Homo sapiens: one gene and its partner. The protein of the gene in region 2 interacts with the protein of the main gene of each other region in a pairwise test. Each region holds a gene or a part of one and is shown on either strand. Other genes may lie near its edges.

What was found. Proteins that work in one complex are often made in the same cells at the same time.
Region 1: the proteins of MS4A3 (region 2) and TMEM218 interact in binary tests that used the Homo sapiens proteins (3 or more experiments, as listed by UniProt).

Annotation. Positions count from the first base shown.
Region 1 is NC_000011.10:125,097,808-125,101,745, forward strand, and holds part of TMEM218 (transmembrane protein 218), read right to left. Parts: intron 3,715-3,938; coding exon of another isoform or gene 3,637-3,714; intron 3,497-3,636; coding exon 3,394-3,496; intron 1-3,393. UniProt on the Homo sapiens protein: May be involved in ciliary biogenesis or function.
Region 2 is NC_000011.10:60,062,780-60,066,717, reverse strand, and holds part of MS4A3 (membrane-spanning 4-domains subfamily A member 3), read right to left. Parts: intron 2,457-3,938; coding exon 2,400-2,456; intron 1-2,399. UniProt on the Homo sapiens protein: Hematopoietic modulator for the G1-S cell cycle transition. Modulates the level of phosphorylation of cyclin-dependent kinase 2 (CDK2) through its direct binding to cyclin-dependent kinase inhibitor 3 (CDKN3/KAP).

The DNA.
Region 1 (3,938 bases), about 65 Mb from region 2:
CCATGATGAGTGGGCCAAGAGTTAGTTCATGTGTATAACTTCCAGTAACATCCTGCCCTGAGTCTCCTCTGTACATGAGAAAAAAGAATCTTTTCCTCAACTCCCTGAGCAGGAGACACAAGAAGGGATTAATGAGGGACAGGGAACAAATGGCTCAATTTAGGATGTTGGTAAACACTTTGAAGTCCCTGGATGAATTCTTTTATATTCTGAAATCTGTTACCTGAAAGAGTTAATGAGAAGCTTTTGCATGGTCCTAGAAAGGCTCATTTTTGTTGTTGCTAAAATACATTTTATTACGGAGAATTTTAAACATACATAAAAATGCAATAGTATAATAAACTCCCATGTATCTAAGACCCAACCCCCAAAATCATCAATCCATTGCCATTTCAGGAGGGTTCATTTTCAAAATGAAAGGTGACTCTTTAAAGCTATCAGCGGAAGAGTCCCATGCCACGGGGCAGGGAAAATGACCATTTACCTGAGATACTAAAACACTAAAAGGATAGGTAACTTGCCCCAAAGCAGACAGTGGGCTGCCTGGCCTTACACTTGAGGCCCCAAAGATGTTGGTCTTTGCTGACAAAACCCTATAATTGGTGTTGGCTCTACCCACTTGTCCACTGACCCCTTCCAGAGCTCCACTCTCCCCAGATCCAAATGGTGGTGCTTAAATTTGGGCAGGAAAAAGCAATTTAATCTATAGACCTAATGGAGCAACACCACCAACCAAGTGGCTGACTGACTTCACAGAAACTTTGAAATCCCAGTACCTAGGAGAATCCAAAACAGCTGAAAGGCAATTGTGGCAGACAGAATAATGGCCCAAAGATATCCACATCCTAATCCCCAGAAATTGTGAATATGTTAGATTATATGTTAAAGGAGAATTAAGATTGCCAATCAGCTGCCCTTAAAACAAGGGGTATTAATCTGGATTATCCAATCCAGGTGGACCCAATCTAATCACAGGATCCTTCTAAGTTGAATAGGGAGGTGGGAGAGAGGGTCAGAGCAAGAGAGGTGAGGATGGAAGCATCAGTGAGGTGTGATGTCACTGGCTCTGAAGATGGAGGAAGGGGGCTGTCAGCCAAGGAATACGAGCAGCCTCTAGAAGCTGGAAAGGATAAGGAAATGGATTCTCCCCTAGAACTTCTGGAAAGGAATGCTGCCCTGCCAACCCCTTGGTTTTAGCCCAGTGAGACTGATGTTGGACTCTAACCTACAGAACTGTAAGATAATACATCTGTGTTGGGAGCCATTAGTTCACATAATTTGTTACAGCAGCAACAGAAAACTAACACAGCGGCCATACACAAAGTATCTCTCAGACCCGAGCCCTAGTAGGATCACTGAGGTCCAAAGACACCTCAGCTGCTCCAGAGATTACCCCAACAGTCAACTTACAACAAAGGTCAGTTTGATAAAACAGCTTTAACATAACTTTGACCTTGGCTCCGGTACTGAACAAGTCTCTTGCGGGCCACATGTTTGCTCGTTCGACACGTTTCACTTTTTAATTAGCCAATTAGCAGGCCTTGGGTGCAGAAGGCCCAGGCCATGTATTATTGATACAGCATTGAGCCAGGCTGCTGCAGAGGCCCGCTCTCAAAACCTGAAAATGAGAACTCCAATTCTGCCGGCCATGCTGACAAAAGTATTTTGCTCAAACCCCATTCTTGTCTCCTGGGTCTGAAACTCATATGACAGACAATCGAGGGATTGATTTCAAAAATGTGTTTGCTCTGTGCCCTTCTCCCGATGTTTACATCTGCAGCATCCAGAAATGTGGCAGCCCACATCACTCTCCCCCTTAAAAGACAAGGAAAGCAGCTGGGTGCGGTGGCTCACGTCTGTAATCCCAGCACTTTGGGAGGCTGAGGCGAGTGGATCACCTGAGGTCAGCAGTTTGAGACCAGCCTGGCCAACATGGTGAAACCCTATCTCTACCAAAAATACAAAAATTAGCTGGGTGTGGTGGCACATGCCTATAATCTCAGCTACTCGGGAGGCTGAGGCAGGAGAATTGCTTGAGTCCGGGAGACGGAGGTTGCAGTGTGCCGAGATCATGCCACTGCACTCCAGCCTGGCCGACAGAGCGAGACTGTCTCAAAAAAAAAAAAAAAAAAAAAGATAAGTGAGGTGTGAATTTGCCCCTGGCTCACACATGTGGTACCCACACCTCCAGAGTGTTTTCCAAATACTGACAACAAACTTGTGTCCATGGAAATAATTCCTTAAGTGTGTGTGGTAAAGTACTATTTCCCTTGGAGTTTAATTTCCTTCCTCTTGCCATAGTTAATCCTACAGTGTCAATTTTAGTTCAAAAGTTACACATATAATCTTGTGTACTGTTGTTGTCTAGTGTCAAAATGCTAACCCATGAGCTCTCTGGGACTGCCCTGAATATTCTGTTAAGTTCTCAACACTGAAGATTTTGAAGACGGACCTCAGCTTGAATCCCTGTTCTGCCTCTTGCTATGTGACCTTGGGCAAGTTACCTTAACCTCTGACAGACTCAGTGTTCTTACCTATAAAATGGGGATAATAATGGTACCTATGTCATACTACTTAGGGCTGTCCTGAGGTTTAAATGAGACAGTGCAAACAAAGTGTTTGGCACAGGACCTGGCACACGGAAATCCCTTAAAGAATGTTAGCTATTTTCATGACTATCACTTAAAACATCAAAATGAAGGTTGAGAGGAAAGCTGTGAGAAGGAGTAATGGGACAGAAAAGGTCAATGTCATTGTCAAGATCCCATGGGTCTGAGACCAGCCATGCATGGTAAAGCCATGGTAAAGAACTCCAGAGAAGGATTCTGAGAGAGATGATAAAAATCCATTTAAAGACATGGGTGCTGGCAGGTATGGTCCCAGGTATGAGGACCAAAGAACTCCCAGAAGACTGTTGGGAAAATTCTAGCACATGCAGTTGGAGAAGCATGTCCTCAGCACCCTCAGGGCACCACATCAATTTCAGCCCAGGATCTGCAGTTAGGAGCCCAGGCTGCCAGGAATGGGAACACTTCATCTCGGGTGCAGGCCTGTGACTATCCCTATTTCATTTTCTTTTTTTTCTGTCCCCATGGTACGAGGTGGCTTTCCAACAGGCTGTTTTCAACTTGATGCAAACTGAAGATGAGACCAAATCAGGCAAATAACTGCCTGGTGGGGTTGTAGATGGAATTCAGAGTAAGATTCTTTTCCTGAGTGAAGGGGCAGGGGAACTTAAAACTCCCTCTGAACTTTCCCCGTCATTGGTTGAACTTTACAATTCTGACATCTCAGGCAACCCGATGTCAGGGAACATCAAGGGCAGGACGGATGTGCAGACCAAGAGAAATAAGAATCACAGCTCAGGAGGCAAAACGAAAGCAACAGCTTTACCTTAACTTCCACTTCTGGGGCTGGGAATTCACCAGCTCGCGGGAAAAGCAACAGAACTGATGTGATGATCACAGCACCGAAGAATAAAAAAATGACAGAGAACCTGGGGTTAAAAAGACAAATTATTAAAAGCACTGTCTATAATTTCTTCTTTGATCAGTTAGGTCTGGACAGTCTCTTCCTTGGAGCCAATATTCTATGTTTCAGTCCCTTAACAATGTCCAGAGGCCTGCTGTCAACAACCTCTTCATCCCAAAGTCCTTCTTCCTAGACAGGTACCAGCTGGGTGCATTCCCATTTATTCTTGGTAATTCCCAATTCCTAAGAATGGAAATGTGTAGTTTTTATTTTTACTTCTGCCCAAAGTCATAATCAAGAAAAACCAAAGCATCCCCTCTCCACCTCCACTTCTGTTGTTTTTAGAACAGAATACTTTAGAAAATTCTACAACTCTCTGCTTCATACTAACACTGTCTTGCCAGAGTGCAACTCTAGTGTTTTCAGAGTCGGTTTATGGCCTAACCCTGTTCTGAAGGCAATGCCTG
Region 2 (3,938 bases):
ATATTTTTGAAAGTGATTAAGTACTAGGGGCTAACAGAATGGGATAAGGAGAATCTGGGAATCCAAAGAGAGGAGTGGGGGTTCATGATATTAAATAGAAATGACACTGGGGAGAGGCATGAAAGAGCTGTGGGTGCCAGCCAGGAGGATATCTGGGGGAATATCCTTGAAATTAGGGAAACACTCAAAATCCTGAGGCCAGAATCTTCTGGGGCAGCAAAGGGGTCAAGGGCGTTGGAGGCACGTAGTCAATACTAGGAAATGAAGAAGAAGGAAAGTTAACAGAGAGCCAAATCATGTGGGGCTCTGCAGATCATGAAAAGGAACTTGTTTCTAACTCTAAGAAAAATACAAAGCCAATGAAGGATTTGGAGCAAATAAATGATATACTTGGCTTTATGGTTTCAAGGGATCACTGTTTCTAGCAAGGCAAAGAGAAGTTCAACGATAAAAGCTAGAAGCCCAATTAGGAGAGACAAGGTGGATTGGATGAAATGTCATCAATAGAAAGATAAGAAAAGGTCAAAACTGGATATAATAATAGCTTGAAAGTAGAGCCAACATTATTTGCTGATAAATAGGATTCAGGATTGTGAAAGAAAGAAGACTCTTGGTTATTCTAAGGTGTTTGGTCTGGGAATCTGGAAGGATGACATTCCCATCAGCTGACATGAGGAGAAGGTTTGAGGAAGAAGACTGGGAGTTGAGCTTTGGATCTTTACATGCCAGTCTGATGATCAGGAGAGACACCTGGGCTGGAAATACTTATTTCAGGGTTGTGGGCATACAGATATTACTTGAAGTCATAAGAATGTGTGAGATCACAGAAGAAGTACGTATAGATTGAGAAGAGCAGGTGGCAAAGAATTCAGCTCTGGGGCACCAGAACATTAAAAGGTCAGAGACAAGGAGAGGAACCAGGAAAGGAGACTGAGATGGAGAAAGCAAAAGATGGGAGGAAAACCAGCCAAGCAATGTATGCTGGAAGCCAAGTGAGGAAATTCCTGGAAGGAGGAGTGGGCGACTAACTATGCTAAATGCTACTCATAGCTTAAGTTAGATGAGGAACAAGAGTTGACCGTTGTTTTAGCAGGGTGGAAGTTTTCAGTGATCTTAAAGACAGCAGTTACAGAAGGATAGTAGGGAATAAAATAAAGTCTTATTGAAGTGGGTTTGATTCAAACCGGTAGATGGAAATCAGAGAAAGAACATGATGATTCCTTTGAAGGAGTTTAGCTACAGAAGGAAAATACAAATTGTGCCTGTCCCTAGCAGGGAGAAATAATGTCAAGGTTTTCTTGTTTTGTTTTGTTTTGTTTTGTTTTTAAGTTGAGAACAGTAACTGGATGTTTACATGCTGATTAGAGATGGGGCAAGGTAACTCACGCCTGTAACCCCAGCCTTTTGGGAGGCTGAGGCAGGAGGACTGCTTGAGCCCAAGATTTTGAGACCAGCCTGGGCAACATGGCAAGATCCTGTCTCTACAAAAAAAAAAAAAAAAAAGACAAAAATTAGCCAGGGATGGTGGCACACACCTGTAGTCCCAGCTATGTGAGAGGCTGAGGTGGGAGGATTGCATGAGCCCTGGAAGGTGGAGGCTGTAGTGAGCTGTGACCACACCACTGCACTCCCATCTGGGTGACAGAGTGAGACTCGAAAAATATATATATAGCAGAGAGACAAAAATTAAAGTGATGCACTTGTGTGGGGAAAAAAAGAATGGAATCTTATACTCAAGTAGGGAGATCAGCTTTAAAGAAAATCACAAAATTTTCCTATGGTAAGAGGCTAGAAGAAAAAAATACATTGGTACAGATCTAGTCCATTAGTAGTGGAGGTCTGAAAATTCCCTTCTAATGGCTTCAGTTTTCTCAGAAGAGACAGAAAAATCATCAGCAGAGAGTAAGGATGACAGAAGTGGGATTGGTGTTTGAGGATACAATAAAATGGTAAAATAGCTATCCATGGAGGAGGGAAAGTGAATGAATGGAGTAGGAAAGTGGAGTATCAGTGGCTACGTGACTCACTAAGAACACATCATAGAGACTTAGCAGTTGTTTAGAATAGAAGTTTGGACTTTCAGTTGTCAAACTAGTTAGTGGTGGGAGTTCTTACTTCCAAATAATTAGAATTGGTCAAACTTGACAACACATAAAAATCAAGAAGACTTTTTCTAAGCTTCAAGTTCACCAATATTAAGAGCAAGCATCCCAGGAATGCATCCTCACAATGTATGTGATCTGCTGACCTACCATCTGAACACGTTAAGAAAACTAATATTTTGTGCATTAAATGATACTCAGTGTCTCAGTTGTATTCATGGACACTTACTGTCCTACTGTTTATGAATAATATATTTCTACTCCTCTGATCATAGAAAAAGAGGAAGTGCTACTTACCCATGTTCTTGTGGGTTTTATCCCTGCTACAACAGACAAGGTTCCTGAACTACAGAACTGTTTGAAAATAGGAAGGAAAACAGATAAAGGAATATTAAGTCTCAACCATTTTCTTCTTGGTCCTCCCTCAATTAGCAGATATCCAGCAATAGTCATACAAACCTCCCTTTTAAATTCACATCCTAGGACACAGAATTGTACTTGATGCTGCTCACTTTATTTATTTATTTATTTATTTATTTATTTATTTAGTCTTTCCATGCAATTAGTTTTATTCATTTTATTTTTTAAATTTTTTTTATTTCCATACGTTATTGGGGAACAGGTGGTGTTTGGTTACATGGATAAGTTCTTTAGTGGTAATTTGTGAGATTTTGGTGCACCCATCACCCAAACAGTATACACTGCACACAATTTGTAGCCTTTTATCCCTCACCTCCTTCCCACCTTTCCCCCTGAGTCCCCAAAGTCCATTGTGTCATTCTTATGCCTTTGCATCCTCATAGCTTAGCTCCCGCTTATAAGTGAGAACATATGATGTTTGATTTTCCACTCCTGAGTTACTTCACTTAGGATAATGGCTTATGCAAGGATTTAATGACGAAGAAGCCAAAAACAAATGCAATAAAATCAAAGATAAATAGCTGGGACCTAATTAAACTAAGGAGCTTTTGCACGGCAAAAGGAACAGTCAGCAGAGTAAACAGACAACCCATAGAGTGGGAGAAAATCTTCACAATCTATACATCTAACAAAGGACTAATATCCAGAATCTGCAATGAACCCAAACAAATCACCAAGAAATAAACAAACAATCCCATCAAAAAATGGGCTAAGGACATGAATAGACAATTCTCAAAAGAAGATATACAAATGGCCAACAAACATATCATTCACTTTTTAAAAATGAACCATCAGGGAAGTAATAAATAATCAAAACTGAATGAATACATTTTAAAATCACCCCTATTTCTTCTGATTGAATGTTGACCCAGATAATGGAAATGATTCTTCTGACTTTCAGACAGTAATCAGCAGACAAATTTCTTAACTCTCAAGCCAGGACTCTCTGCTGTACCACAAGGCAATTCATCAATACCCATTTTTCATTCAATTTTTTAAGTATCTATAAATGTAACATATAGTTATATATAAGATAATTTTTAGGACTTCATTTGTACTTGGCAAATGTGGTTTCTCTTAATCAGAAAGAGATTTTTGGCCTGGCATCAGGGCTCATGCCTGGCAATTCCAGCATTTTGGGAGGCCAAGCTGGGAGGACCACTTGTGGTCAGGAGTTCGAGACCATCCTGGAAAACATGGTGAATCCCTGTCTCTACTAAAAATACAAAAACAAAAATTAGGTGGGCATGGTGGTGCATGCCTGTAATCCCAGCCACTCAGGAGACTGAGGCAAGAGAATCACTTGAACTGGGGAGGCAGAGGGTTTCAGTGGGCAGAGATCATGCCACTGCACTCCAGCCTGGATGGCAGATCGAGACTTTGTCTCAAAAAATAAATTAATTAAGTAATTAATTA